4 separate regions of the Homo sapiens genome follow, and all the other regions are linked to region 3. The links come from fine-mapping of genetic effects on gene expression. A gene starts in region 3. Each other region holds a variant in brackets. All regions are shown on one strand. Distances are between the middles of the regions. Region 1 overlaps GAS6 (growth arrest specific 6). Region 2 overlaps TMEM255B (transmembrane protein 255B). Region 3 holds the start of GAS6-AS1 (GAS6 antisense RNA 1). Region 4 overlaps GAS6 (growth arrest specific 6).

Region 1 (7,538 bases), 34 kb before region 3:
TGAGCAGAGCAAAGGCAGCAGAGGCGGATGCCAGGGTCCGGAGGTGGCATCTACTCATCAGACACTTTCTGTAGTTTTATAACAAATTTGGGGCCTCATGTTAGACCCCAGCCAGACCAGGCTCCTGTCCTGGGGCTCAGCTCCCTCCAAGCTGCTTCAGGTTCAGTTTCCTCCATGCTTACGAAACCGAAGGGCAACGGGCACAGTCAGGGAGGCGTCAGAGGAGGCACCGGCTCCACTGTTCACACCGGGACCTTCTGCAGACGGGGCTCCCAGCCTCGACCAGCCCCGGAACCCCCAGCACGGGGACGTCCAATCTTTTGGCTTCCGTGGGCCACATTGGAAGAAGAACTGTCTTGGGCCACACATAAAATTAACACTAACAGTAGCTGATGAGCTAAAAAGAAGGTCTGTGCCTAAAGCTCATGTTTTAAGAAAGTTTACGAATTTATGTTGGGCTGCATTCATGGCCATCCTGGGCCACTCACAGTTGCGCCAGAGCCTCGGGAGCACAGGCCGAGCACCTGCCCTGCTTCACCCAGGGACGGGGCCCTGCACTGACCAGGAGGCTGTTGCCCTCCAAGTCGTCCCTGCCGGGAACAGCAAAGCACACAAACCTCCGAGAGACCTAATGGCTGCATCCTCCGTGCAGTGGGCACCACGCTTGCCACCTAGAAGAGTGGGTTTGGCAGATGTCAGTTAATAACAAGGATGTAAGTTTTAAAATCACGTGGGGGTTTGTAAACTTGAGGAATTACAGCACAAACACTTCCATATTATTAAAAGAAACAGACTGGGAGCATTGATTTTGACTTTTCTTCCAAGTACTTATCTATGATTTAAGTGAAACTGAGCATTCAGTGCTCTGTGGGAGTGAAAACTGCAGGCCCTTGCACTTGCCCACTGATTCATTCATTCACCCATCCACCCACTCATTCATTCAACTATCCATGCACTCGCTCATCCATCCATCCACTCATTCCTTCATTTATTCATCCATCTCCATCCATCCAGTCACCCATTCACCCACTCACTCATCTATCCACTCACTCACCCACCCATTCACTCATCCATTCACCCACCCACTCACCCACCCACCTATTCATTCATTCATGTATTCATCTATCTACTCACTCTCATTCACCCATTCATTCATTCATCTGTCCATCCATTCACCTATCCACCCACTCATCCATTCATGTACTCACTCATCTACCCACTCACTCATTCTTTCATTCATTCATCCATTCACTCACCCATCCACCCACTCATTCATTCACTCATCTGGCCACTCACTCATCCACCCACTCACTCATTCATTCATACACTCACTCATCCATCTATTCACTCATTGTTTTATTCATTCATCCATCCATCCATCCACTCACCCATCTATCTACGCATTTATTCATTTACCCACTCAGTCATCCGTCCATCCTCATTCATTTATCCATCCATCTCCATTCATTTACTCATCCACCCACTCATTCATTCTTTCATCCACCCACTCATCCATCCACTCATTCATTTGTTCATTCATCCATCTCTATCCACTCATCCATTCATTCATTCCCATTCACTCATTCATCCACTGATTCATTCATTCATTCATCTGGTTATTCACCCATCCACTCACTTATCCATCCATGCATCTGTCTGCTCACTCATCCATCCTACTCACTAATCTATCCACCGATTCACTCATCCATCCATTCATTCATTCATCTGTGCATTTATCCATACATGCATCTATCCATCCATCTATCCATCTATCAATCCATCTGTTCAGTCATTCATCCATTCACTCATCCATCCATCCACCCACTCATTCATGCATCCATCTGCCCATCCACTCATTTATTCACCCATCCATTCTTTCACGCACTCATCCACTGTCCATCTGTCATCCATCCATGTGTTTGGTGACGGCTCATGAGGCCTCTGGGGGACAGTCAGCACCAGGCTCGGTGCTGGGCAGGTAGATGTTGTCTTTTTCCTCTTGAAGCTTCAGCTAACAGTGCAGTGGCTTGGGGTTTGCTCACTTATTTTTATCTGTAGCTGTTCAAATAAAACAGAAGCAGATCCCCGGGGAAAGGATTTCCAGGGGCCAAATGGCGCCATTTCCAGCCTGGGAATCCCAGCTTCTTCCCCCTGTTGCCCTCACCTAACCCCAGCACGCCAACCCATTACCATAGGTCTTGCTCTTCCTAGGTTTAGAAGAAAGAGAGTCAGTGTGTACATAAGGAGCTCCTGGTTCTAAATTCCGGCCTCCTGAGTGGTGGCCTCTGCTCCATGGGGACTCCTGGGGGTGCTGCTCTGGAGATATGGCTAATGCAGGGCTTCAGGCCAAGGTTTATGGACCTGAACAAGCAGTAGTGCAGACAGGGGTGGGAGGGTTTTGAGGACAAAGTGCTCTGTGTTTGGTTCTGCAGGTCAGGGAGCTTATCTGGGTGCCTTTACTCAAAGCCATTTCTGGGTCTTACATCTTTGGCTAGAATGTTCTCAGGACAATGTGAAATGTCTTTATCTCAGGAGTGTATACCAGAATGTTCTCAGGACAACGTGAAATGTCTTTCTTTCTTGGGAGTGTGTACCAGAATGTTCTCAGGAAAATGTGAAATGTCTCTTTTTCTTTCTCTCAGGAGTGTATAGCGTTTTTAGGTTTATTCATCTTAGCTTTTCTCTTGCTCATGGTTTAACCATCTTTCCCCTAGTTTGCCGGTGGAATTAGCATATGCTTTCTGCCTCCATTACTGTCTCAAATAATCAAACATGCAAATTAGGATACAGTGCCCAGGGCTATAACCCTGTGGTTTCAGAAACCCCATTCCCATAGGTGTGGCGAACTGACAGGAGATTGGCATAGTTTTTCCATGAATAATGCCTTTTTGCAACAATAAAACTTGGTATTAATACAGATTACACATTAAGTAGTATGACTAGTCTTGATTTTGAAAAATAGAACACACTTGCTGTAAAGCTGTGGTAATGCAAGCATTTGTGTATAGTTAGGCCGTTTGCTCACTAGTTCTTAGTTGTTTTCAATCCCTGGCTTCTAAACCTGAAAGGACACCTTTTGCATCCCTCGCAAGTCTTTTATTTCAGAGCCAGAGCCTCCTGCTTTGAGACAAAGCCCCATCACTTCCCTTCTCCTTCCAAGCCTAGAAACCTGGTGCCACTTCGTGTTGCTCCAGGACTCCACCAGGGCTCACTTGGTATGGCTGTTCTTGCCTTTTCTTGGAGTTTGCCAACCCATGACTAAAATTGGAAGTGAGAGAAATGAGGGCAGGCATGAGGGTGTGTGTTCCAGGTCTGCAGCCCTCCTGGCCTTCAGGGCGGCCGCCCTCCCAACAGACACGTGAGCTGCACACCAGCTCACCCTGACCCTTCCTTTCTCTTAAGGGAGTAAGAGTTTAAGAGCATCCCATCTTTCCTAGAACACAACTTTGTGAAAACACATCCAAGCAGGCCTCAGGAGGGTGTTGGCAAGGCTGGGGCGGGGCCTCCAGGCTCTTCCCACAAAAGGTGTGGCAAGGCCAGCAAGTGTGGGAGAGAGGTGGGAAGGAGGCAGAAAGGCCATGCAGAGCCAGCGCATGAAGCCAGAGGCGCGTTGCAGACGGCGCTGGGTACCTACCGCCTCTGTCTGCTACTCTGCAAAATGCTACCAGCGCCTGCTAATCCTGACCTTCATGCCCCCAGGTGAATCCCACAACCATCCTGAAGCCGGGTTTCCTCATTCCTGATAATGGGATTAAAAAGACCTTCCTGGGTGTTATTTGTGAGGATTTCATAAAATAGTGTAAAAATGCTGACTCATACCCAGCATGGAGAGGCCGCTGGGACTATTCTGCCATGACTGTGGTCTCTTGGTTTAGAGCATTTAGGGCCAAACTGCTGGCATGGTTGACCCTAAGCTGGAGATTGGAGGCTGCTTTAACCAGGCTGTGGCCCTAGAATCTGTGGGCCATGGCAAAAGGATCCTGAAGAAGTTTCCGGCCGGCCTCTGCTGGCCAAGTGACAGGCAGGTGGTTCCAGGACTCGACAGCTCACTTGTGTCGAATGTGGACCTCGTCAGTGCGCTTTCATGGATAAGAAGACCCTTCATTACAGCCTCCATCCTCACCCAGTACCAATTTTGTTTCACCAATACTATAAGTGCAAATCAATGCCCGTGTGCCAAAAGAAAGGTCTTTGGGGTTTTGAGAGACCTTTGTGTCAACAGGGAACTAAGGTCTTTGGGTTTTAGAGACCCTTATGTCAACAGGGAACTAAGAGTGGGGTTTTACTTGGAAGCATTCTTGTCCTCCTGGGCAGGCCTCTCCCCTGGACACACCTGGTAGCACTTCCTACGCAGCTGGAAATGGCCCTGCCTTTGCTTGTTGGTCTCACAGCAGTCGTGCCCCGGTCACTTCCCCTCAGTTCCCCGGGTGGGGCGGCCCTCTGGCTGCCCCGAGAGCAGCCTCTGATTAACCAGCTGATGCTTATGTTGTTCAGAGACCCTCGTAGTGTGCCGGTCAATGCTTGCCTTTTCTTTTTCTTTTTCCACAGGATTATTTTTACCCAAGATACTTAGGTAAGTCTCAATTACTTCTCTACTCTGGTTGTCGTAGAGGCATAGTTGGGGGTGCGTGTTTCATGTTGGAGGAATCTCCTCACCACGTAACTCTTGGAAGGAAGATTCTTAATCACATGGTGCACGTGGAACTGTCCGGAACATGCAGGTCAGAAACACAAGTTTCTCTCTTTATTTTATACCACAGCTTTATTCCGTGTTAGTGGAACCTCAGGTGAATGCTGTTATCTGCAAACCCCTTCTCTGAGTTGATGCCAGGCTCAGCTCCTTGTCAGGACGTGTAATTGATTTTGTCCTCCGGTTTTCTGACCTCAGCACTAATCACTTCTGAAGTCATTGAGGACCCCAAAGGGGTCCATGTTCATGTGGGCTGTATTGACTGATATTTACCGTATTCTTAATTAAAACCGAAAACACTGAATAGTGTTTCTGTTTAATTTGAAGAACGGGAATGCCAGACGTTATCTCAGCCATCAGAGCAGCTGGTGCATGTGGGGCGGCCTCTGGAGACCCCCACTGTACACTTGGGAAGGGAGGACAGCAAGAAAGTGAAACCCAGAGACCCCGGGTCAGCCCGTTTAACTGACACCATCTTAGAGCTCTTTGAGAGCATTTCACTTAGAAGGAGAGAAATGTATTCCAGGGTCTTCTTTTTAATGTTGCAAAGTGCATTTTAGTAAATGTCCTCTTAAAGGGTCCTTCCCTGGGTCCATATCTGGAACAAACACAGTGGGTCTGGCACTGGCCCAGAAAGCCCAGGCACCAGCGAGGACTGAGTTCTGAAGCAGGGGGTGGCCAGCGGTCCACAGCACACCTGCAGGAGGCCTTCCGCTGTTCATCCGTGCCGTTCTGCGCCTGGATAAGCAACAGTAACCCACTGAAGGGCCAGGTCGAGAGGCCCCGCACCGTTCTGCACAACCTCACGCTTCGGGTTATCCCTGGATGTGCATGTGCCAGGCCTCGCCTCCCCCCGCCGCCCTAGCGGGATGTCTGCTGTCAAGCTGTGTTCAGCCAGCCAGAGAGCATGGAGGGGCTTTCTCCAAAGCAGAGTGGCTTTCCAGTTAAGCACAGCGTTTCCCAATGGGGGTCCACTGGAAAATGAAGTTTAGCTTTTCGAGTACCGTCAGGAACTTACTGAGCATTCCCGGTGATTCTCCCGTATGGCAGGAGGAGCCCCCTCGAAACGGCGGGCGGTGCTTTACGCACTTGACTGTGGGTGCACAACT[C/T]CGCTGAGTTGGTGGAGGTGGTTTCCTGTTTGTCAGGGTTGGGGCTAACATGTTTTTTATTAACACAAGCTAAGCGGCATTGTTTCTGGAGGATGATAGCACCCCAGGTAAGCAGAGTAACTGCCTCTCCAGAGCGTCTCAGAAGCAGAGGCTCTGCAGTCCATCCGGTCTTGTAAGGATGACTGACATCCATTCCCTTTCTTCCTGCAGACTGCATCAACAAGTATGGGTCTCCGTACACCAAAAACTCAGGCTTCGCCACCTGCGTGCAAAGTAAGTCGGCCTCCTTTGCGCCTTCCTGGGAGCACTGTGGGTTTGGGCGGCTTTAGGCTTGGCTGTGGTTTGTGGAGGGCCCTGAATAGTTCTGTTTTTTAAGGAGCTGTGGTCCCTTGCCGAGGCCTGCTCCCTTTTCGCCAAACTTTCTTTTTTAAACAAGTAAATTTTGACGTTTTTAGCAATAGGCAATAAATGCACATGGAACAAAATGTAAATGTTTCACAGAGTGTGATGTGAAAGCCCATCCCCGCCTCTGAGTCGTCCAGTCAGACACCACCGTAGTTACAGTTCCAAGAATCTTGTGCTTAGACATGTAAACATGTGTGAGCGGCCTTCCGCTCTTCACACGCGTGGCGGCTTAGCACACACGGTCTGTCCCGTGCCTCTGCAACTCTGTCTGCACAGGAGACCCTCTCTTAGCGTGTCTCACCTTCACGCTGGCATTTCCAGCCGGTGCATCATATGAACTTAGCCCATGCATATTGGCTGATGTCCAGGTTATTTCCAATTTCCATCATTTAAACAAAACTGGCGTGACATCCTCATGCACCTGTTGCCTCCCACACGTCTGAGTGTCTGCGGGATGCGTTCCCAAGGATGGAATCGCAGAGGCAGTCCTCATGTTTCCTTTGGATACAGATACTGCCAAATTATCCCAGAGCCAGCCTTAGCCTCCGCCCCTGCAGGGGTGAATGAACTGTTTTTTTAAACTTTTGATCTCTTCCAATGTAACAGGCGAGAAATGACATCAGTCATTTCAGGTTTTTTTTTTTTTTTTTAACTAATGAGTAAAGCTGTCCTTCATAGGTTTAAAAACTGTGTATTTCTTTTCCTATAAACTGTTGTTTATATTTTTTGCCTGTTTTTCTCAATTTGTAGGAGTTTGCACATTAGCCATTGGTAGTAAAGTTATCAAAAATTTTTTCAGCTTGCCACAAGTCTTTTTTATTATTTTAAAATTATCATGCAATAAGATTGATTGTTTTGGGTGTCCTGTATGAATTTTAACATACCTTCAGCACAACCCACACAGCTCCCCTTGCACTGGGTCTGTGGTCCGCTGGCGTCACGTGTGTCTAGTTTTAGATGAAAGTCCAGCTTGGTGAGTCCCTGTGGGCGCTGAGAGCAGAGGCGTGGCGGGACGGAGTCATCCTGGGAGAGGCAGGAGTCTCTTCCCAGGCATGGCTTTGGAGCTGGATCCCAGTCAGCAGAAGGAGTCAGAGGTGGCTCAGTCCCGCTCCCCAAGCCCCACGCACTGTCCGTGGGCGTCTCTGGCCTCCCGGACTTGTATCACAGACCCCAGCCCAAGAGACACAGGCAGAGGAAATGCTCAGTGTAAACATGGGAATGGGAGGGTGGCCCTGCCCTGTGGCCCGGCCTGCCCTGACCTGCAACCATGCACAGTAGCCAGGTGCCACGTAGGGCCCAATGTCTGCATTTGGGGCAGAGGCTCCTGCGTGCTC
Region 2 (7,538 bases), 51 kb after region 3:
TACCATCAATTTACCTCGCCGCCTTACTGTTCAAAATCTGGCCTGACGGGTGGATGAGGTCAGCACCACCACCTTCTGGCCGTTCCCACGCGATCACGTCACTAATACGATCTTTGACCCACGGCTTCTTGGTAGGAATCGTTTAAAGTTACTTTCCCCTTCCATGGGCTATGGTGGTCGACCTGGTCCCTCAGGGTAAAATCCTTCCAGGATGCTTGGGGAGGCTCTGTCCGGCCTTTTTGGACATCCTGGGCTCCTGGCCCCTCCTCCACCTTGGACATTTCCTGTTGCCGGGCTCTGGCCCCCCTCCTGCCCTCTGGTCACCCTGTGACCACATCGGGCCAACCCAGACAATGGAGGGCACCTGGCCCTATTTTGAGATCAACTTGGACCTCAACCCCAATTCCCCTCTGCCTTGGACCTGCCACTGTCCCAGGTCCTGGGGATTGGGAAGTGCATGTCTGTGGGGGCCATAACCCTGCCGACCACAAGCACTGATCGAAGCCTCCCCACCTTCAGCCCCAGCCCTGTGAGCTGGCGTGGACTCCACCCTGAGAGAGCCACACACCACCCTGCCCTCCCCGGCCCAGGCCGCCCGCCCGGCGCACTCACAATGATCCCTGGGTAGTAGCCCCCAACGGTCACATTCTCCGTCCTGGTGGTGGCAGCCAGCCCGACGGTGACTATGAGGACGGACACCAGCAGCAGAGACCCCACAAACCAGAGCGACGTCTTCTTCCTCCTCGAAAGCCCTTCTGTGGGGAGGAAGGCGAGGACCTGTCAGTGAGGGCTCAGGCTCAGGAGGGCGTCAGGCCAGCAGGCTCTGGGCCGTGCTCCGTTACCCAGGGGTCCTGGGATGCACTATCCCCGCCTGCCTCCAGGCCCACCTCAGGGGACCACCCCCAACCTCCATTAGATAACAGAATAAAATCTCTGGACCATAAGCCACTATACTGGATAGCCTGGTATTTGCGGCCAAACCTAATTCTAACTGTCACAGAACTCAAGAAAGCAAACTAGAAAGGACTCCTTCCTATTGGCTGCCTCTTCCTCTATCTGACTTTCTCCCCCTGGTGTCCCCAGGAGGACAGGAGCATCTTTTGTTTACTGTTTTATCATTACCATTCGCTCACAGACACACCCTCTCTATCCGCCTATCCCAGCCACACCCAGTGGGGGAGGGGGCTGCCACCAGGGGAGGGGCAGGGAGAGAGGAACGCACACAGCAGCCATCCAGCTGTGCCATCTGTTTTGCTTTATTTTTTGAAAACTGAATCATCTTGATCCCTGTGTGACTCCAAACAAAATAGGGGATTTAAAAAACCATGGTAAGGTCTTCCTACTCCAAGAGTTTGAAAATCAACATTTGTGTGTGTGCACATGTGTAAGTGCGTGTGTGCAGGGAAAGCAGACCGCACACTGGAGAGCCGCTGGCAGCGATGACGGCCGTGCAGACATTGTCCACACCCTAGAAGGTCCGCATCTGAAGATTTACACTTCTGCAATCCCATCAGCAGAGCTCAATGGCAAGGCAAGGTTATCGCACCCAAGGAAGGGATTGTTACATCCTCAGAAATGAGTTTCACAAAACTATAAATCAATGTGCAGATGCAGAATTGCTCTGCTGATCTGAGAGAGTCATTTTTATCCAGCTGACCCAGCAAGGGCGTGGCCTTGGTCACGGCCTTCCTTCAAGGCCCTCTTGGACTCAGCACAGCCCCCGGCACAGCACCCTGCCTGCCTCTTGACCCTTGCAAAGATACACTTGTCCCAAGAATCTCATCCTAAATCGCTTTTTACCTTCCACCTTGGAGGGGACCAGATCACTCCATTCGCCAATGTAATAAACCATCGGCTCCCACCAGCCAGCCAGGCTGCCCCCGTCTTGGACCCACTGCACCGAGGCGGCCAGTGGCACTGTCCTTAGTGTTATACTCCAGGCCGCAGGCAGTGGTTTCAGCCTCTCCCTGGTTGCCCCATCTCCTGCCTCCTTAGAGGCAGGCTTGTTGCAGCATCCACAGGGCCTTTGTACCTGCTGTCTCCAGCTAGACACTCGCAGCACTCCCTGAAGGCCTCTCTTACATGTTGCTGCATAGACACACTGAGTATAGTAGCCACACTCACCCCTGTGCTCTCCACAGTTGCCCCTTCACCCCTGCCCCTGCAGAGCATCCTCGCATGTGAGAGGCAGAGGGGACACCAGACAGACAGAGGCACACGCTGCAGGCATTGGAAAAGGCCAAGTTCAGTGGAGAAAACTTAAGCAGGGCTGGGGACAGGGCGCTCCGGATGTGTCACCCACAGGCAGCGGGCAGAGGGCAGAGCCTTCCCTGAGGGGCCTGGTGATGGCACAGTGCACCCCTCAGCCCAGCACCACTGGTGTGGAGTGAGGCCCTCCTTCTGAAAGCCACCCTCCTGAGACACCAGAGGCCGCAGCCCGGTGCGGGCCAGGGAGCAATCCCCACACCCAGCCTCAGGAACACGCCCTGGGGTTCGGGGTCCCTGCAGCCAGGGCCACACCTGCGCCCTCCGGGTCCCCAAGGCAGCTTCTGCAGGGGTCACACTGAATAAACCTAGAGGGGTGACAAGCAGGTGGGTGCAGGGGCGGGCACAGCACCAGGAGCCCCAAGGCCACACTGGCGGCCCAGGACCTGGCACCTACACATCCATCACCCAGTGTCTGTTAAAGTCATGCTCCCCCAGCCCCAACCCGTGTCCCCGTGTCCCACGCCCACGCCCCGGCCCATCCCACCCCAGGCCACACCTGCCTTCCTGTGTGCATGGAGCACGTCCTTTCTTGTCTTTGGATGGGGAGGACACTCCCCTCAAGTGACCGAGGCCCAGGCACCCGACACCTGCCCTGCATGAGGGGATGGGCGCTGCACCTGCCAGCCGGAACACACGGCCCAAGGCCTCCTCCAGCTCCGCCTCTCAGTCCCTCGCTTCTCAGCCTCAGGCTTCCTTCCTCCTCCCCACCTCTAACTCGCACAGTTCTTCCCTGTGTCTCTCATGGTATTTCTGAACTAAAAGCCAACCCTCGTTGGACTGGAAAAGGTTGGGAAGATGATAACGACATTCTTACAAGGAAAAGGGAGACAGTGGGTATATGTTGGAAAGTGTGATTTTTACGCTGCTCAGAAGAGCAGAGTGATTTTTTGTAGAACACTCATAAAGTACTGAAAAATGCAAAAGGGAAAATAAAATTCATGGTAACCTAAATTAACAAGTAGGCATAAAATCTTATGGTCTTTTTTCAATGCACTATGTACTTTTTAAAACATTTTTTTCTTAAATTAGGACCACAATGCTTTATAGTAATTTTTTCACTGAAATCTTGCAATTTGTTAAAAACCTGAAAGGTTATATGTTCACGGTCGTTTGCCC[G/A]AGAGACAGGAGCGATGGCGACAGATCCCGGGTCTCTGTCGGGAAGTCGAGGTGAGAAACGGCAAACCCACGCTGGGAGCAAGTGGGCAAGAGGAAGGCAGGCACCTCCCGTGGGTGAAACTCCGTTCTGGTTGATTCGTTTTAGAAAGGTAGGTAAACTTTTTAAAAATGGACACAAAATTTAAAAATATATGCAATTCCACATTTTGGAAGTTAATGAAACAGCTATTGTGGAATTACACAAAATAATCATATTGATGATAATAACACCATCTATGGATTGGGCTGTGTGTCGATTTTCAGAGCAGCCTAACTTCCTTATCTCATTTGATCATGACCAGAGGCTCCAGGTCACCCTCACCAGCCTCCATGTAACACCTGCCAATGCAGCCAAATGCTAGGTGCCTTCAACTCACACAATTCCCGCTTCAGCCTTTCCTGCTTTTCCTTAGGCTCCCATTCCAATCTTTTGACTGTTTAAATGTATTTTAAGAGCAATACAATTTCTAAAACTAAATTTTATGGGACTAAGTATTTGAGAAAATTATCAGACAAACGCTGTCCTTCTCAAAGGATTTTGTTGTGCGATTTTTCTTAATTAAATGCACTGCATGCATATAATATTATGCTCAAAATAGTTAACCAGATGACTCAGCGTCTGCTTCGACCCACAGGTAGAACCTTCCGTGGGGCTCCTGTCCCAGCCTCCTGTGGGCGTCCGTCTGTCAGGAACCCTGTGACTGGATTCTGGTTCTTAAAGCTGGAAGCTCTGCTCGGTTCCTTGGCATGAAGAGTGGGGGCCCAGCAAGACCCACTGGGCTAACTGACCTTGTCAAGTCAATCGGTAACATGCTGACTTGTTAATTACTATGCGAAGAGTTAGACACATCTCCTCTGAAACCACGTAAATCCTCCTACAAACCATTTTCAACCTAACTTTGCTATGTTTACCCCTCTTTCCTGAGTCTAACTTCCCCCCCATCTGCTACAAAATAAAAAGCAGAAGGTATGAGCCACCCTTTTATCAGCATTCCTATCACAGATTCCTAGATTATACAAGTCTAGAAAGACAGTAGAACTTACATGGGGCACTGGGAGCAATGGTTGCAAATCATCTCATTCAATTACACAATGGTGATATTTTGACTCCAGATATAATAGAGATAACAAAAAGAAGACTCCCAACCTTAAACACATTCTATAAATACATGACACAGCATAAAAATGAGAAAAAAAATAAACTCAAGAAAAGAAGGTGGGATATCTTTATAATTAGCATAAGAGATAATTATAAGGTCAGATTTTCAAGAGAAAGGGGCTTTCACTTAGGAGAAAGATAATTAAAATCACCTGAATAATTTCCTTGATTTTTTTTTTTTTCCTGTCCCGGAAATACTGTTATTACACGCACTGTGAAAATTAAAGTGCTCCTAAGTGCCCCAACTATTAATTAAAATATCTACCAATAGGTTTCTATTGCAGAGGCAGCTTACAGGGACTGGACCCAAACCATTCTGGGTCTGTCCAGACCCATTGTGTGGTCTTGGGCGGCCATTTAATCTCCCTGAGCCTGGGAGAAGAGAACCCTATGAGAGCCAAGAGCTCTGTCTCTTGTTTGTCGCCGGTTCCCGGGGCTCAGATGAGGACATAGACACATCTCCTGGTACGGAATGAATGAAGGCACTTCAGTCTCCTGACCTGTAGGATGGAAATCATGAGAACCACCTGCTCACCCACCTCTTGAGATTGTGATAAGCGTCCAGTGAGACACGATACGTGGGCTCTCATATAGGTTTTTGTAAATGGAATGCATATGCTAATCATCAGGGTGGTGTGAACTTTAAGACGGCGTAGCGGCTATTCTTAACCAGCATTTCTCCCACTGGAGTTGCAAGGAGGAGTTCTGAGATGTGAAGCTGAAGGGGCCAACAGCTACCTCTCTGCTATCAAGTGCGCTGATTTTTCTAATTCTAGTCTTCCCCAGGTGCAGCCCATCTAGGATATCTCAGAATATCACCTTGTCACTCCCCACCAGCCCCCACTTCTCCCATCCCACCTGCTCTCCCCTTCCTGGCTCCTTCCCCAGCCTTAGCTGGAGGAGCTGAACCACATGAGCCTGTGCCCACGCCAGGTCCTACCTGGAAGACACGCGAGGCTGGAGGTCAGGTTCTTCCTGCCCCTCAGACCCATTTCCTCTACTCCACAGAGCCAGGAAGGGGAATGTCACAAAGCATGGGAGGTGGCACTGCTTGGAAGGGTTCTAAGATCCGGCCTTCCTGCCAGCCGGACCTGGAACGCCCAAAAAGAAGAGTGAGTTCCATTTAATCATGTGGGGACACCAGTCATGGTGTCCAAGTAACAATCCCAGGTAAAACTGTAATCACTCAGCCGTCAATTCCTCTTTCGTCCTGATTTTACACATGCCCAGGGTAGTGAACAAAGAAGGGCAAAGCAGAAAAACCCATAATCCTACCCCCAGGTACCCCAAAGCAGAAAGACTATGGTCCACCCCCAGATACCCCAAAGCAGAAAAACCCACAATCTACCTCCAGACACACCAAAGCAGAAAGACCATAACCCACCCCCAGACACACCAAAGCAGAAAGACCATAATCCACCCCCAGGCACACCAAAGCAGAAAGACCATAATCCACCCCCAGATACCCCAAAGCAGAAAGACCATAACCCACCCCCGATACCCCAAAGCAGAAAGACCATAATCCACCCCCAGACACACCAAAGCAGAAAGACCATAATCCACCCCCAGATACCCCAAAGCAGAAAGACCATAATCCACCCCCAGATACCCCAAAGCAGAAAGACCATAACCCACCCCCAGATACCCCAAAGCAGAAAGACCATAATCCACCCCGACACACCAAAGCAGAAAGACCATAATCCAACCCCAGACACACCAATGCTTTATACATTTTAGTAAAAGACCAGCTCCAAACAAAAAGACCCATAATCCTACCCAGATACACCAATGTTTCATATACTAAAAAGACCAGCTCCAAGTATTGTTTTAAGGTTTAAAGTTCTTTGTCAGAAGAAAATCTAAGTCAGATGCTATTTTTAAACATTAAGGCATTCTAATAATGATAAAACTAGTTAATAAATAATAATAATAGTTATCATTATTAAACACCAATAGACTAATCCACATTAATACATTTGACCATAGAGCATTTTGCTTTAGATTGGAAGGCATATAGTGGTTTCTTTTAGAAAGAAGCCAAATTATTTGATTATTTTAAGTAACAGTAATTCGTCCGGTTCCGAACGATGCCGCAGTAAAAGGGTTGTGAGGTTAATCCCCAGAAGTTTGTGTTGGATTATTTCTGAGGGAGCGGCAGAGCCCCCTAGACACCACTCCATCCCTCCCTCCAGCCGTCAGGGCTTCACTTTCTAGGGAACTCTGTTTCTCTTTTGTTCTGAAATCTGCCCAGCCCTCTCCCCCTCAGGAAGACACCCGGCATCCTTCCAGTCCTGGCCACTTCCCGGCAGAGCCCCCGAGCCCGGCTTGCGAACTGGTGAACACGCAACAGGTTTCCTGTTTTCCCAGCCTTTGCCTGGCTCCGAGGCTGCAGCGGGCTTGGTCTGGGAAGTGGAAGAATTGGAGATTCCGTGAACACACCGGGGAGAAACACGAGAGAGGGGCGAGCCGAAACCAAGCAACACTGTCCAGTTCTGTGAGCGCCTCTGCACGTTCAAACAGGAAAAGGCTACCTCGCTCTTCCAAACGAAGTTTTCCCGGAAAATGGTGTAGGTTGGAATAAACGGAAGAGATGGGGAAGGAGCGCACTTTGGGGCGCCTGTTCCTCATAATAAAACGTAACAGGGAGAGAGAGGCCAAGAGGAACGGACACAGAGTCAGAGAAAGGCAAAGACTGAGGAGGCAGAGACAGAAAGAGCGAGAGAGACAGAGACAGAGACAGAGAGAGAGACAGGGAGAGAGAATGAATGAACGAACCGGTAGGACGAACGCCCGACCCCAGTGCGAAATGCAAAGTGTTCCAAAGACAGAGCTCGAAGGAGGCGGAGGGACCAGACCCCGTGCCGCGTCTCCGCGCAGGTTCCGCCCGGGCCGGCCGGGGACCTGTAGTCCCAGCCCCGGGGTCCCCACGCTCCCCCGCAGGAGCCGAGACGAGCCC
Region 3 (5,740 bases):
CCCGTGGAGGGAGGGGGGATGTATCCCGTGGAGGGAGGGGGGATGTGTCCCCTGGAGGGAGGGGGGACAGCCCTGACTCTGGGCTGGAGAGGAGGAAGGAGGTTGGGCATGTGTTTTGCAGGTGGGGTCCTTTGATGTGGCCGCGTCCTGTGCACAGCAGATGCAGCATCGCCCCCTCCTGGACACCCAGCCTCATGACAACACGAAATGTCTCCAGAGGTTGGCCACTGTCCCCTGGGCCCGGGCACCTCTGGGGAAACACTGCTCTAAGCAAGAAGGAACGTTTCGTCCTACTTCACGTAATACGGCAAATATGAACATCAGATTTTTAAATGCCAACGGAAGCATAAAGCAAATGTACAGCCGGGCTAATCCCAGCACAGCCCATTTGTAGGAGAAGCTCCAGCCACAGCCCCTGCCTGCAAAGCAAGAAGGGTCACCTGCCCCAGGGTCAAGGACTCCACGAGGGGAGAGGGGGAGGGTCCGCTCCATGGTGCCCTTGTTTCAAGCACGTTTTCTGCTTACTGAATTCCATCAGTTAAAAGGTCTAGGAAACAGAAAAGGAAGTGGCGCGTGTCGCCGTCTGAGGATCTGCTGACGGGCCCCGGCCTCGTGGAATCCTCTTCTGCCTCTGTGGGTCTCCAGAGTTTCGGAGGCATCTCTGCTCCCACCGCGGGGTCTGGTGGCCACGGGGTCCCCAAGTCTGCAGGAGGAGCTGCTCTGTGTGGCGAGGGTGATGACCATGGCTCTTGTTCACTGAGCAGGGCCGGTGGCCAGCACTGTCCAAGTCACCAGTGCAGCCCCATAAGGCCATCTTCACAACATCCTTGGGGCCCGTTTCTCCCACTCCCGTTTCCATGGAGATGTGATTCACACAGCAATAGCCACGCCTCATGAGTGCAGAGCATGGGTCGGTGGTCAGTCCATCCACGGGGCCGTCCACCCATCACTGCCATCTGGCTCCCGGACACTCCTCTTCCCACAAGAACTCGTGTCCCTGACCAGTGACTGCACCTCTCCCCATCCAGAACACGCTTAGAACACACTTGCCTCCCCGAAAAGAACTCGTATCCCTGACCAGTGACTGCACCTCTCCCCATCCAGAACACGCTGCAAACACGCTTGCCTCCCCGAAAAGAACTCGTGTCCCTGACCAGTAACTGCACCTCTCCCCATCCAGAACACGCTGCAAACACGCTTGCCTCCCCGAAAAGAACCCGTGTCCCTGAGCAGTGACTGCATCTCTCCCCATACAGAACACGCTGCGAACACGCTTGCCTCCCCGAAAAGAACCCGTGTCCCTGAGCAGTGACTGCACCTCCTTTCCCAGTCGGCTTCTGTCTGTGGACACGCCTTCTCTGGACACTGCATATAAACAGAACACAGTCTTCATGTCTGGTGTCCTTCCCTGAGCACTGTGTGTTACAGCCTCAGCACCCGTTAGAGCTTCCTTCCTCTCCGTGGCCGGGTGACCCGCGTGTGGATGGGCCACGTCCTCTCCCTCTCTGTGGCTGGGTGAGACCCGCGTGTGGATGGACCACTGTAGTATTCTGTTTTCACACTGCTAATAAGGACATACCCGAGACTGGGAAAAAAAGAGGTTTAACGGGACTTACAATTGCACATGGTTGGGGAGGCCTCAGAATCACGGTGGGAGGCAAAAGGCACTTCTTACACGGCAGGAGCAAGAGAAAATGAGGAAGAAGCAAAAGCGGAAATCCTGATCAACCAGTCAGATCTCGTGAGACTTACTCACTATCACGAGAATAGCACGGGAAAGACCAGCCACCATGATTCAATTACCTCCCGCTGGGTCCCTCCCACAACGCGCAGGAATTCTGGGAAATACAATTCAAGTTGAGATTTGGGTGGGGACACAGCAAAACCATATCACCCATGTCCCTTCCTCTCTCCGTGGCCGGTGACCCCATGTGGACGGACCGTCACCCATGTCCCTTCCTCTCTCCGTGGCCGGTGACCCCACGTGGACGGACCGTCACCCATGTCCCTTCCTCTCTCCGTGGCCGGTGACCCCACGTGGACGGACCGTCACCCATGTCCCTTCCTCTCTTTGTGGCCGTTGGCCCCATGTGGACGGACTGTGTCCCTCCCCCACTCAGTAGTTGCCTCTGCTTGGGAGCTCTTGTGAGCAGTGCTGCTGTGTGAAATGTAGAAACTGAGGCAGGAGGAGACTCCCTGTAACCCAAGGTCCCAAGCTAATAAGGTGGGGCCAGTCTCAACGGACCCCTGCCCAGGGCAATGCTCTGACCCTGCCCTCCTCAGTCACAACCTGCAGCTACACTAGGCCCCCACCTCTGAGCTGCAGGAGAAGCCTGTCTCCTGTGCTGTCCCAGTGAGGCAGGGAGTGCAGGTGGGGCCACAGCACCCCAAACCCCCCAGCACCCCCTGCCCCGGGGCCACAGCACCCCCAAACCCCCCAGCACCCCCTGCCCCACCATCCCCTCCACCCCATCTCCCGCGGCCTCCAGGGTCTCACTGACCTCGGCTGTGCATGGGAACCAAGTGAGGGCGGGATTGGGAGCCCATCCCTGCAGAGGAGGCTGGGATCAGAAGGCCCCAGCGGAGCCCAGAGAGGGGGTTCATCAGACCGTGACTCAGGCTGGCAGAGCTTGGTGGCCCCAGACAGGATCCGTCCACATGAGACAGGTGCACCTCGAGAGCAGCCGCCGCCCACACTGCAGGCCAGGCATTGGCCGGAGCCCTGCGCCAGGTGGGAGCTGCCCTGGGACCTGGGGGACCCTCCAGCCACCACGAACCTTGAGTCAAATTGTTCACATTCTTTGTGGCTGGGATAAAGGATAAGGACATTTTTGTGGCAAGAACAAAACTGTTGACCTTGGAGTTGAATATTTTTGAACAGCTTTTGACTCTAGACAAGATTAAAAGTCGGGAAAGATCGATGTTGTGTTTGGGGGAAGCTGGTGAGTGCAGCCTCGGGGAAGCACTCTGATGCCCCCACACCGCACCCTGCGACCGAGGGCTGACATGAGGGGAAGGAGGGTTATTCCTGTGACTTTGCTGGCCAGAGCTCCAGGGGGCATAGACTCCCTGCCCAGACCTGCAGTTCAGCTTCTCTGCTGTTCGCACCCCTAGGACACCAAGAGGTGCTGGTGCCTGCACCAGGCAGCTTCGGGGGCACAGCCCGAGCTCCAGGGTGCCCAGGAACCGCCCACACAAGACCACGGCACCATCGGCGCCCATAGAGCCTTCCCTGAGGTAAAGTGAGAGCCCTGGGGACTCGGGAAATCCGTGGCACACTTTTCTTCCCCCACAGGCGCTCGTGAGTGCATCTCCCGGCGCTCCAGAAACCTCTTGGTCTCTGCTGCTTGTTCAGCTTCTTACTCGGAGCCAGGCACCCACAGCCCTGGAGGAACTGGGCGGTGATTTCCAGACAGGACGCCGCACCTCCGGCTCGTGCCCGACCTCCCGGACTGGTTCAAGGCCAGTCAGCCCTGAGAGGCCAAGACCACATTCTCCTGGACAGCAAGCTTGTGAGGCTGGATTTTATAAGATAAAAATGACAAGCAGTGGCGGGTTCACAGACCAGAGCTGGCTGCAGGCCTTTCAGAGGCCCGTTAGGGCCCCTGGGCCCAGCCAGCCACCGTTCATGTGTGGATGTGCGCTGTGGGCCTTCTGCCCAGGAGCGCTGGACACAGGATGAGACCCTCCGTCGGGCAGAGGGAGGCTCCCGGGCAGCGGAGGGGGCAGAGGCTGTGTGAGACCCTCCATCGGACAGAGGGAGGCTCCCGGGCAGCAGAGGGGGCAGGAGGCTGTGTCTGCACGAGTGTGGCTCCCCTCCACCTTATCTTTTTTCTCCCAGATCCAGGACTGGGCAGGGGAGAAAGTCCCCGCTCCACCTCCCAGGTGGGCACTGTTCCGTGAAGTAAGCTGGAGACCTCAGACCCACACGGGAGAAGAGCGGTACTTGTTTATCGTAGGCACGGGGGGCTTTGCAGGGAGGGACGTGAGGCCCTGAGAGCGGTGAGGCCTGGAGGCGCCAGCTTCCGAGGGGAGAGGGAGTGACTGGGGAACCGTGAGCGGCCCACAGAGCAGAGACGGCGACTTGGTGTCTTGTGGCACGTCTGGGGAGCAATGGGATCACCTCTCGCCCGCCCTCCCGCCCTGGGAGTCCCTGGTTCCCTGAGGATCTGACTTCAGGAGTTCAGAGAAAGCCTCTCCCCACATCCAACACTTTTCAAGAGACTTCGGCTACTTTGGGGTGGCGCATCCTGAACTCCTGTCACTGGGGCGCCTGTGACCCACCCGGGACCCGTGACCCACTCGGGACCCGTGACCCACCCGGGACCCGTGACCCACCCGGGGCCCGTGACCCACCCGGGACCCGTGACCCACCCGGGACCCGTGACTCACCCGGGGCCTGTGACTCACCCGGGGCCTGTGACCCACTCGGGACCTGTGACCCACCCGGGATGCCTGTGACCCACCCGGGACCTGTGACCCACTCAGGACCTGTGACCCACCTGAGACCTGTCCTGTGACCCACCCGGGGCCTGTGACCCACCCGGGACCTGCTGCTTCCCAGGCGTGCTCACCCGTCTCCCCAGGTGTGCCCGGCAGGTGCATGCTGGGCCCGCGGGGAGCTAAGCTGGTTTCCACAGGGAGTGCTGCGGCCCCAGACCCTGAGCCAAAGGACCCCGAAACACCGTCCCCCACCATCCCAGCGGCCAGGGGTCCTGAGACAAGGTGCGGTGAGGGAGAAGCCGCGGAAGGACAGCGGAAGCCCAGGCGCCGTAGCTGGGAGACAGCTCAGGGGAAGACCCTCGTGCCAGTGGCCCAGGCAGATTTGCATCCGGGGCTGGGAAAGACAACCGGGCCCCTGGATTCTAACAACTCACAGGCGGTTAGACACAGCGCTGGGCGTTGGAGCCGAAGCGTCCTTCCCTTCCTGGCATACGTCAGGAGCACAGCACGAGGGGCGGGTGGCTTCTGCCCTGCGCTTCTCCAGGACACAGATGCACACACGAACGTGTAACGCACAACACATGTCCACAAACAAGAACACACAGGCAGGGAGGCCGGGGCTGCACTGTCTTTGCAAAATCATAATAATAGCTAATTAATTAAGGGATGTGAAAACACCAGAACAATTGCTCTCAGAGGAGGAGGCCGGGTGGGAACTTTCAGCGCCATTTGATGTGAGCAGAGCCCAAGCCAAGGTGTCACCAGCCTGGGTCTGGAGGGCCCCACTCCCTGCCTGGTTCCAGCCTCCCTCACCAGTGTGCCCAGGGAGGAAAGGAGGGGACAGACTTCTGGAACATTCTCCCGGGTTCTCTAGGAGGTTGGCCACAGAAGCGGGATTTCTAGAGGCTGCCTTTTTTTTAAAAAAAAAAACAAACAAGTTATCTTTTACTCCACGCCTCTATCAGGGTGCGTAGGGGGGTGGCTTCTCCCCCGGGGGAAAGTAGGTGGGTGCGTAGCACGGTGGAGCCTGGCCGGGAAGCCCAGAGCCAGAGCTGCTTGGAGAAGGGGGCTGCAGGTCCTCAGACGAAGCCAGGGCAGAGGAGGGCGCAACTGGGAAGCGGCTGCAGGGCTGCAATAAACAGAGAGGGCCCTGGGTTAGCAGGTGAGACCACCCCGTGCCGGACCACAGGGAAGCCTGACATATACCAGGGCCACTCACACGCTCCCCACCCACCCCGCCAACCCAGGGCCACCCGCAGACTCAGGGCCATTCACATGGGCCCCCCGCAGACCCAGG
Region 4 (7,538 bases), 26 kb before region 3:
AGCCATAGCCCCATAAAGTCCAAATTCAGCCCCAGACAAGCAGGCCCCCAGCGGGCCTTGCATGGGAGCCTGCGGCCCTCAGGCTGTCCCAGGACCCAGGCGGCACAGTGGACGGAGGGAGGAGGCCTGGGAAGAGTGTAGGCTGCGTTCCCAGGTGCCCCTGAAGAGCCTCTGCTTCCATTTCTTTCCTTTCCCACGGACACACCCAGCTTCTCCACTGCGAACGCGCCCGTCCTGCCATAGCGGCCACTTGGTGCTTGGATTTCTCGGCTCCTTTGACCCATGGGTTTCCCCAGGAAGGTCAGGTCCCCACAGGCGGTGGCCCAGGCAGCGGTCACTGAGCCCCGGCTACCGGGATCCCACCCCCGCCACGGGGAGTGTCCCCTCGCCCTTCCCTCGGGCAGACAGGGCTCTGGTCCTCGCTCGTCACCACCCAGGGAAAGGCCCTGGCCGCCCGCACCGGCTTCAGATTCCAGCCACAGCCACAGCCGCTCCCTCCTGTCCTTCAACGCAGTCATGGGCCAAGCTGAGATAAACCCTTCACCTCCTGAACAGGCGCTGGCGCCCAGGGCATGACCAGCCAGGCCACCGATACCCTAGGCCCAGCTTGCGGGATGGGGATCAGGGAGGTGGGCGGGGGTCAGGGAGGTGGACGGGGTCAGGGAAGTGGGTGCCCTCGGGGGCCTGCAGAGGTTTCTGTCTCCATCGCTTTCCCTGTTGTGTGGAGGAAATTCCACAGATATTTGCTGGGCACCGGCTGACTGTCCACCCCTCAGGTGTGGTTCCGTCCTTGCATCCTAGAGGTATCAATACATTCCCAACAGGGAAATAAACAAATGAGTTGGGGGAGGCCCCGGGGCAGGTGGCATGAGTCTGGGGACCGCTTAAGAGCTGGGCACCTGGCAGGAGCAGGCACTGTCCCTCAGCCTCAGGGACAGAGGTCTTTCCGAAAGGCATTCCAGGCAAAGTCAAGACCGGGTTCCCAGCCCTTTGCATCACATGGGCAGGTGTCCACTTCTGAAATGGCTTTAATCTCTAACCAAACATCGTAGCGGCAGCGCACAGCATCCCCCAGACATCCCTCCATGGTGGGGGCCTCTGAGGAGGTCAGGTTCTGGTGCCGGAGGGTTGGGCCCTGCACAGGCCGCCTGCCCTGCACGTGTCTGACTCCCTCCTGCCCCCAGAGCCTCTTCATCTGAGGCCAGGGTGGAGAAGCGGATACGCCCCTCATTTCTCTAGTTCAGGCCAGACCTCCCCGTTCCAGGCCCTGCTATGACCACATCGACGTCTCCAGACGCCCCGCGGACACAGCACCCAGGTACAGCCGGGCGACAGCAGTGTCAGGGATGGGGCCCCGGCCGGCTCCTGGCGGCTGTGCTGATGCAGAATCCCTGGTCCTGGTCCTCGTTTCCTCGTAACTCCGAAGGCCAGCCCCAGCCCCTGTGTGCTTCAGAGTAGAAAGCGTTTATAGTGACCTGCTGAAAATAGCATCTTAGAAACACTTCGAGACGCGAGCTCCGTCCACACCCACAAGTGTTCTGTTGTCAGTCATTTGTGCAAAACAAGCAAACGGAGGTGTAGGGAGGAAACTGTGGGGTGTACTGAGGAAACTGAGGCTTATAGAGGAAACTGTGAGGCAGACGGAGGAAACTGAGGTGTATGGAGGAAACTGAAGCATACAGAGGAAATTGAGGCGTATGGAGGAAACTGGGGCGTATGGAGGAAACTGGGGCGTATGGAGGAAACTGGGGCGTACAAAGGAAATTGAGGCGTATGGAGGAAACTGGGGCGTATGGAGGAAACTGAGGCATATGGAGGAAACTGTGGGGCGTACAGAGAAAATTGAGGCGTATGGAGGAAACTGTGGGGTGTATGGAAGAAACTGGGGGGCGTATGGAGGAAATTGAGGCATATGGAGGAAACTGTGGGGTGTATGGAGGAAACTGGGCATATGGAGGAAACTGTGGGGCGTATGGAAGAAACTGTGGGGCGTATGGAGGAAACTGTGGGGCGTATGGAGGAAACTGTGGGGCGTATGGAGGAAACTGGGGGGCGTATGGAGGAAACTGGGCATATGGAGGAAACTGTGGGGTGTATGGAGGAAACTGGGCATATGGAGGAAACTGTGGGGTGTATGGAAGAAACTGGGGGGCGTATGGAGGAAATTGAGGCATATGGAGGAAACTGTGGGGTGTATGGAGGAAACTGGGCATATGGAGGAAACTGTGGGGCGTATGGAGGAAACTGTGGGGTGTATGGAGGAAACCGGGGCGTATGGAGGAAACTGGGGCATACGGAGGAAACTGTGGGGCGTATGGAGGAAATTGAGGCATATGGAGGAAACTGGGGCATACGGAGGAAACGCGGGTGTACGGAGCAAACTGTGAGGCATACGGAGGAAACGCTGTGAGGCATACGGCGAAGCGTCGCAGAAAGAAGCCAGTGTGGTTGGGCAGCTTCCCCAAGAAGCCTGGGACTCGTAGCCAGGGCCTCTGGTGAGCGCGGTGCCTGGACCCGCCTAGGAGGACAGGGGCTGTGTCTGTGCCGGCCACAGGCAGTGACTGTAAGCCCTGGATGAGCTGGAGGAACTCAGCTTTGTGAACCACAGACCCGCCCGCCGCTCACCCTGGCACCGGGCACCCCTGACCCCGGCCAGGTGGGGATGGAAGCGGCTCCTGCACTGACAGCCGAGCCCAG[A/C]CCCTCTGGTGGAAACGCCACATTCTACAGACCTGGTGGGAAACGTCACCTTGGGAGCCTCAGGAACAGAAGCGACACGCTGGCAGTGAGAGCCCATGCACTGAAGACTCGACGTGCCCCCACCAGGGCTGACCCCTTAGGACGATGCTGGCCCAGTGCCCTAGGGCCCTGCTGGCCCGGCCTGCACTTTTCCCAGGGACTGGTCCTTATTGAACTTGTGTGGAATCAATGGACCGGAGCCCTCTCTCAGCCAGCAGGGGGGCCCTACCCAGGGTTCCCCACGGAGCCCTGTGTGGCTAAGCTGAGCGTGGCTGAGTCCTCATGTGGGGCTGAGCTGAGTGTGGACCGCGCCCCTGAGCACTGCCATGCTCAGCCCCGAGCTGCTTCTGCTCTGCCAGCAGCCATGAAAGGATTCTTTGAGCTCCGGGTGTAATTGTCGTTCTTTCTGCCAACTTCCCGGGGCTCAGGCTTGCGTAACTGCACTGTCGGGGGCTTCCCTGCCTGCCTCTGGGACGTGGTTTGGGTCCGTGTCCTGGAAGCGTGTTTGTGAGCAGCTCCTCGTATGAATGTGTTTGTGAGCAGCTTCTCGGATGGGGGACTGCTTGGGAAGCAGCTGCACTGGCACGGGTTCCCACCCTCAGGCCCTCACCCGTTCCCCTGACCTCTGGCCCTGCAGGAGCTGAGCCCAGGTGACCACCCTGAGAAAGGGCAGAACACACCTGGCCTAAAGCCATCAAGACACGTGGAGAGGGGGCAGCTAAGCAGAAAGAGGGGGGCTTCCTGGAGGACCCCTCTGGCAGTGCAGCCTGGGCCTGGGGTCCTCCCCGCCACACCCAGCAGGGAGAGTTCACCAGAGATGGGCTAGGGGCTGGCCAGGGAAGGCAGAATGTTCCGAGTCTGCCTGGAAGCCCCCAGGTCAGCTGGGGGTTCTGTGTGCCTACTCCCTGGGAGGTCTGAGCTCCCAGGCCTCACGCCAGGCAGTTCCTGCTCCTTTGCCCTCAGCCCTTCCCACCTTGCGTCCAGGCCTGCTGGCACTCCCTCCCAGTTGATCTGAGTTTTCCTGGAGCCGGCCCCAGGGCCCGCCAGCCTATTCTGTCAGCCCTAGGCCAGCACAGAGGGCTCGGGTGCCCAGGGGCTGCCTCAGCCTGCGCCCCTCAGAGCTCCTCCGGGCTGGACCCGAGACCCCACAGCCGCCCCGATCTCAGCTGCGTTGGGCGCGCAGGGGTGGGGCAGCTGAACATGATTTTCCACTTTGTGTCCCCAATCAGACCTGCCTGACCAGTGCACGCCCAACCCCTGCGATAGGAAGGGGACCCAAGCCTGCCAGGACCTCATGGGCAACTTCTTCTGCCTGTGTAAAGCTGGCTGGGGGGGCCGGCTCTGCGACAAAGGTACGTGAGGCTGAAGACAAAGGCGGGGTCTCCCTCCATCTCCGACCCTGCCCTGATCCCCGCTCCTCACTCCCACTCCGGGGCACGGCCATCCTCAGGCTGCTCTCCGACAGCCCCAAGGAGGCTGCAGCCCTGAGGTATCCTGGAGCCCCAGGAGAATTGGGAGGAGCTGCAGTCTCCTTTCTGGGAGCAGGGCTGGAAGGAAAGGAAACACCAAGTGATGCCTCAGCACCCACTGATTGAAGGGCGGGGGGGGAAATTTCACCTCTGACCGTCCTTGAGTGCAGACCTGTGGTGTCAGTGGCACCCACTGATTGAAAGGCGGGGGGGAAATTTCACCTCTGACCGTCCTTGAGTGCAGACCTGTGGTGTCAGTGGCACCCACTGATTGAAAGGCCGGGGGGAGATTTCACCTCTGACCGTCCTTCAGTGTAGACCTGTGGTGTCAGTGAAGACCCTGGAGGAAGAATAGCTCCAGGGCCTGGTGGAGACCCATAGTGGAGAGCCCAGCAGGCCAGCCTGTCCCCTTTGGCAAATCCTACCCCACAGGTGGCCTGGGAGGGCTTTGCTAAGGAGTGGCCAGCTCTGGCCTGGCCTTGTCTGTCCTCGGCACCCAGAGGTCACTCCTGGCCTGCAGCCTCCTCCTGCAAGCACATGGGCATCCAGGGAGCTGAGCCCTGTGGGCTGTGACTGCCAGCAGCTCCCCAGGCTGAGACCGCAGCTGGGGATCCCCCATGCCCTCCCACCATCTACCTCCACACGCAAGGCCAGGACCAGGGGCCATGAAACGCTAGGGCTGCTGAGTGGGGTGTGAGGTCCAAGCCCTGGGGTCCCTCTCTGCTCCAGGGCTGGGCTGTGCACCTCTAGGATCTCTCTCTGCTCGGGGGCTGGGCTGTGCACTCCCAGGCTCTCTCCCTGCTCCAGGGCTGGGCTGTGCACACCCGCGGTCCCTTCCTCCTGCTCCAGTGCTGGGCTGTGCACCCCCCCGGCTCCTTCCCTGCTCCAGTGCTGGGCTGTGCACCCCCGGGCTCCCTCCCTGCTCCAGGGCTGGGCTGTGCACCCCCGGGGTCCCTTCCTCCTGCTGCGGGGCTGGGCTGTGCACCCCCGGGCTCCCTCCCTGCTCCAGGGCTGGGCTGTGCACCCCCGGGGTCCCTTCCTCCTGCTCCGGGGCTGGGCTGTGCACCCCCGGGCTCCCTCCCTGCTCCAGGGCTGGGCTGTGCACCCCCGGGGTCCCCTCCTCCTGCTCCGGGGCTGGGCTGTGCACCCCTGGGCTCCCTCCCTGCTCCAGGGCTGGGCTGTGCACCCCCGGGGTCCCTTCCTCCTGCTCCGGGGCTAGGCTGTGACCCCTGGTCTCCCTCCCTGCTCCAGGGCTGGGCTGTGCACCTTTGGGATCTCTCTCTGCTCCAGGGCTGGGCTGTGCACCTCTGGGCTCCCTCCCTGCTCCAGGGCTGGGCTGTGCACCTCTGGGATCTCTTCCTACCGTAGCCAGGGGCTGTGCACCCTTGGGCTCCCCTTCAGGCCTGTGCTTGTTCCCAGATGTCAACGAATGCAGCCAGGAGAACGGGGGCTGCCTCCAGATCTGCCACAACAAGCCGGGTAGCTTCCACTGTTCCTGCCACAGCGGCTTCGAGCTCTCCTCTGATGGCAGGACCTGCCAAGGTAAGGCCCTGGGGTGAGGCCTCTCTCCTCTCTCCTCTCCCCACCTTCTATTTTCGGTCATGTCTGCTCTTCTGCAAGCGGCTGCTGCTGGCTGGGTTCCTGTGGTTCTGGATGGGATGGGGCATCCTGCAGAGACTACACAAGCCCAGGCCAGCCGCAGCACAGGGAGCTGCTCGGCACCACACCAGGATGACTCACCCGGCATCTGAGGGCCAGGACTCAGGGGGCCGGCCCAGCCCATGAGGCCACACTGCTGGCTGTAGGGCCTCGTCCATTCCCCAGAGCCTCACAGAGCCTGGAAGTGCTCCAGGCACTTGTGTAGTGAGCTTGTGGGTCAGGGCTCCAGGCTAGGGTCCCCCCGCCGTCCACTCTCCCCAGCATCCCCAGAAGCACCCCGTTGTTGGTCTCCCTCTGTCCACTAAATATAGCCCTGCCCTCCCCACTTCCTTTCATATTTCAGTCTGGGGTTCCCTCAGCCCAGGGCCAGAGCTGGGGAGCCCCAGGACACCCCAGAAAGTCACTGTGAATGTGCGCGCCCCCGACGCTGTTCCAGGTGCTGCTGCTGCCACTGGCCCTTTGCCACTTTGCAGGGGGAGCACCTTCCTCCTCCCTCCCCACGTTGTATCTGGACATGCCCAGGCGTGTCCCTGAGAGTTTCTGGCATAGTTCTTAGCGCTGCTGCTGACTGTCCAGGACACCGAACTGCGTGGACAGGACAGACAGTTGCTCAGGGAGAAACAGCCCCAGGATCTGGAGAGTGAATCTGACCAGACAGGAGGGGCCACACCCCATCCCCCGATTTCAAAAGGCAGCTGCTATTTCTGTCCACTTTGGTGGTTCCCTTCCCTGACCACCCAGGAGTTAGCCCTGTGTGCAGATGACGTGATTCCCATCTTAACACATAAACCCATTTCCCCGCCGAGGACAGAGCCCCTCCCATCACTGCTCTATCCCTGACCTGGAAGACAGCAGCACCCCAGGTTTAAAGAGAGGTGAAGACTAGGCCGATCCTGAGAGATGACGTCTAAAGCATCTCCCGTGGGTCCCTGCACCAGTCGGGCACTCCCGGCAAAGTCTAGGCTCACAGTTACTGCCCACAGTGACAGAGGCATTCCCGTCCTCTCCTCCTCCTCCCCATCTTCCTCTTCCTCCCCACCATTCCCCCTCCTCCTTTCCCCACTCCCCCTCCTCCTCTCCCCACTCCCCCTCCTCCTCCCCCCCACTCCCCCTCCTCCTCCCCATCTTCCTCCTCCTCCTCATCTTCCTCCTCCTCTTTCTTCTCCTCCTCCCCCCACTCCCCCTCTTCCTCCCCATCTTCTTCCTCCCCCTCCTCCTCCTCATTCCCCTCTTCTTCCTCCTCATTCCCCTCTTCTTCCTCCTCATTCCCCCTCCTCTTTTTCCCCCTCCTCCTCCCCCATCCTTATTTCCCCTCTCCTCCTCCTCCCCCACCCCTCCCCACCCCCTCCCTCACCCCTCCCCACCCCCTCCCTCACCCCTCCCCACCCCCTCCCTCACCTCCTCCCCCACCCCTCCCTCACCTTCTCCTCTTCCTCCCTGCTTCTCCTCCTCCTCCCCCTCCGTCGTCCTCCCCCTCCGTCCTCCTCCCCCTCCGTCCTCCTCCTTCCCTTCCCCATTCTCCTCCCCCTCCCCCTCCTCCTCCCCCTCCTCCTCCTCCCCCTCCTCCCCCTCCTCTCCATCCTCTCCCTACCCCCTCCTCCTCCCCTCCTCCCCTCCCCCTCCTCTTCTCCCCCTCCCCTTCTCCCCCTCCCCCTTCTCCCCCTCCCCCTTCTC

What was found. PIP is the estimated chance that this variant, and not a neighbour inherited with it, causes the effect.
Region 1: its variant is fine-mapped to the expression of GAS6-AS1 in whole blood (TOPMed, PIP above 0.99).
Region 2: its variant is fine-mapped to the expression of GAS6-AS1 in whole blood (TOPMed, PIP above 0.99).
Region 4: its variant is fine-mapped to the expression of GAS6-AS1 in whole blood (TOPMed, PIP above 0.99).

What each region holds. Positions count from the first base shown.
Region 1 is chr13:113,845,061-113,852,598 of GRCh38, reverse strand. GAS6 (growth arrest specific 6) reads left to right here. Exons shown (of 15, transcript NM_000820.4): 3 at 4,549-4,573; 4 at 6,010-6,072. Among named protein-coding and RNA genes, the nearest start is that of GAS6, 15 kb to the left of the region's middle. RefSeq lists enhancers at 1-155, 2,880-3,501, 3,502-4,125. The variant C/T (reference allele first, on the strand shown) is at 5,800.
Region 2 is chr13:113,759,332-113,766,869 of GRCh38, reverse strand. TMEM255B (transmembrane protein 255B) reads right to left here. Exons shown (of 9, transcript NM_182614.4): 2 at 613-755. Among named protein-coding and RNA genes, the nearest start is that of TMEM255B, 3.9 kb to the right of the region's middle. RefSeq lists an enhancer at 6,925-7,426. The variant G/A (reference allele first, on the strand shown) is at 3,385.
Region 3 is chr13:113,811,568-113,817,307 of GRCh38, reverse strand. GAS6-AS1 (GAS6 antisense RNA 1) reads right to left here and starts at 1,698. Exons shown (of 5, transcript NR_044995.2): 1 at 1,617-1,698. TMEM255B (transmembrane protein 255B) reads right to left here. Exons shown (of 9, transcript NM_182614.4): 9 at 313-5,572. The coding sequence ends at 5,405. RefSeq lists enhancers at 1,275-1,394, 1,455-1,694, 1,745-1,814.
Region 4 is chr13:113,836,278-113,843,815 of GRCh38, reverse strand. GAS6 (growth arrest specific 6) reads left to right here. Exons shown (of 15, transcript NM_000820.4): 5 at 3,966-4,088; 6 at 5,625-5,747. It overlaps GAS6-AS1 (GAS6 antisense RNA 1), which reads right to left. Exons shown (of 5, transcript NR_044995.2): 4 at 5,569-5,739; 5 at 975-1,447. Among named protein-coding and RNA genes, the nearest start is that of GAS6, 24 kb to the left of the region's middle. RefSeq lists enhancers at 3,809-4,385, 4,557-5,109, 5,765-5,824, 5,664-6,216, 6,325-6,534. The variant A/C (reference allele first, on the strand shown) is at 2,698.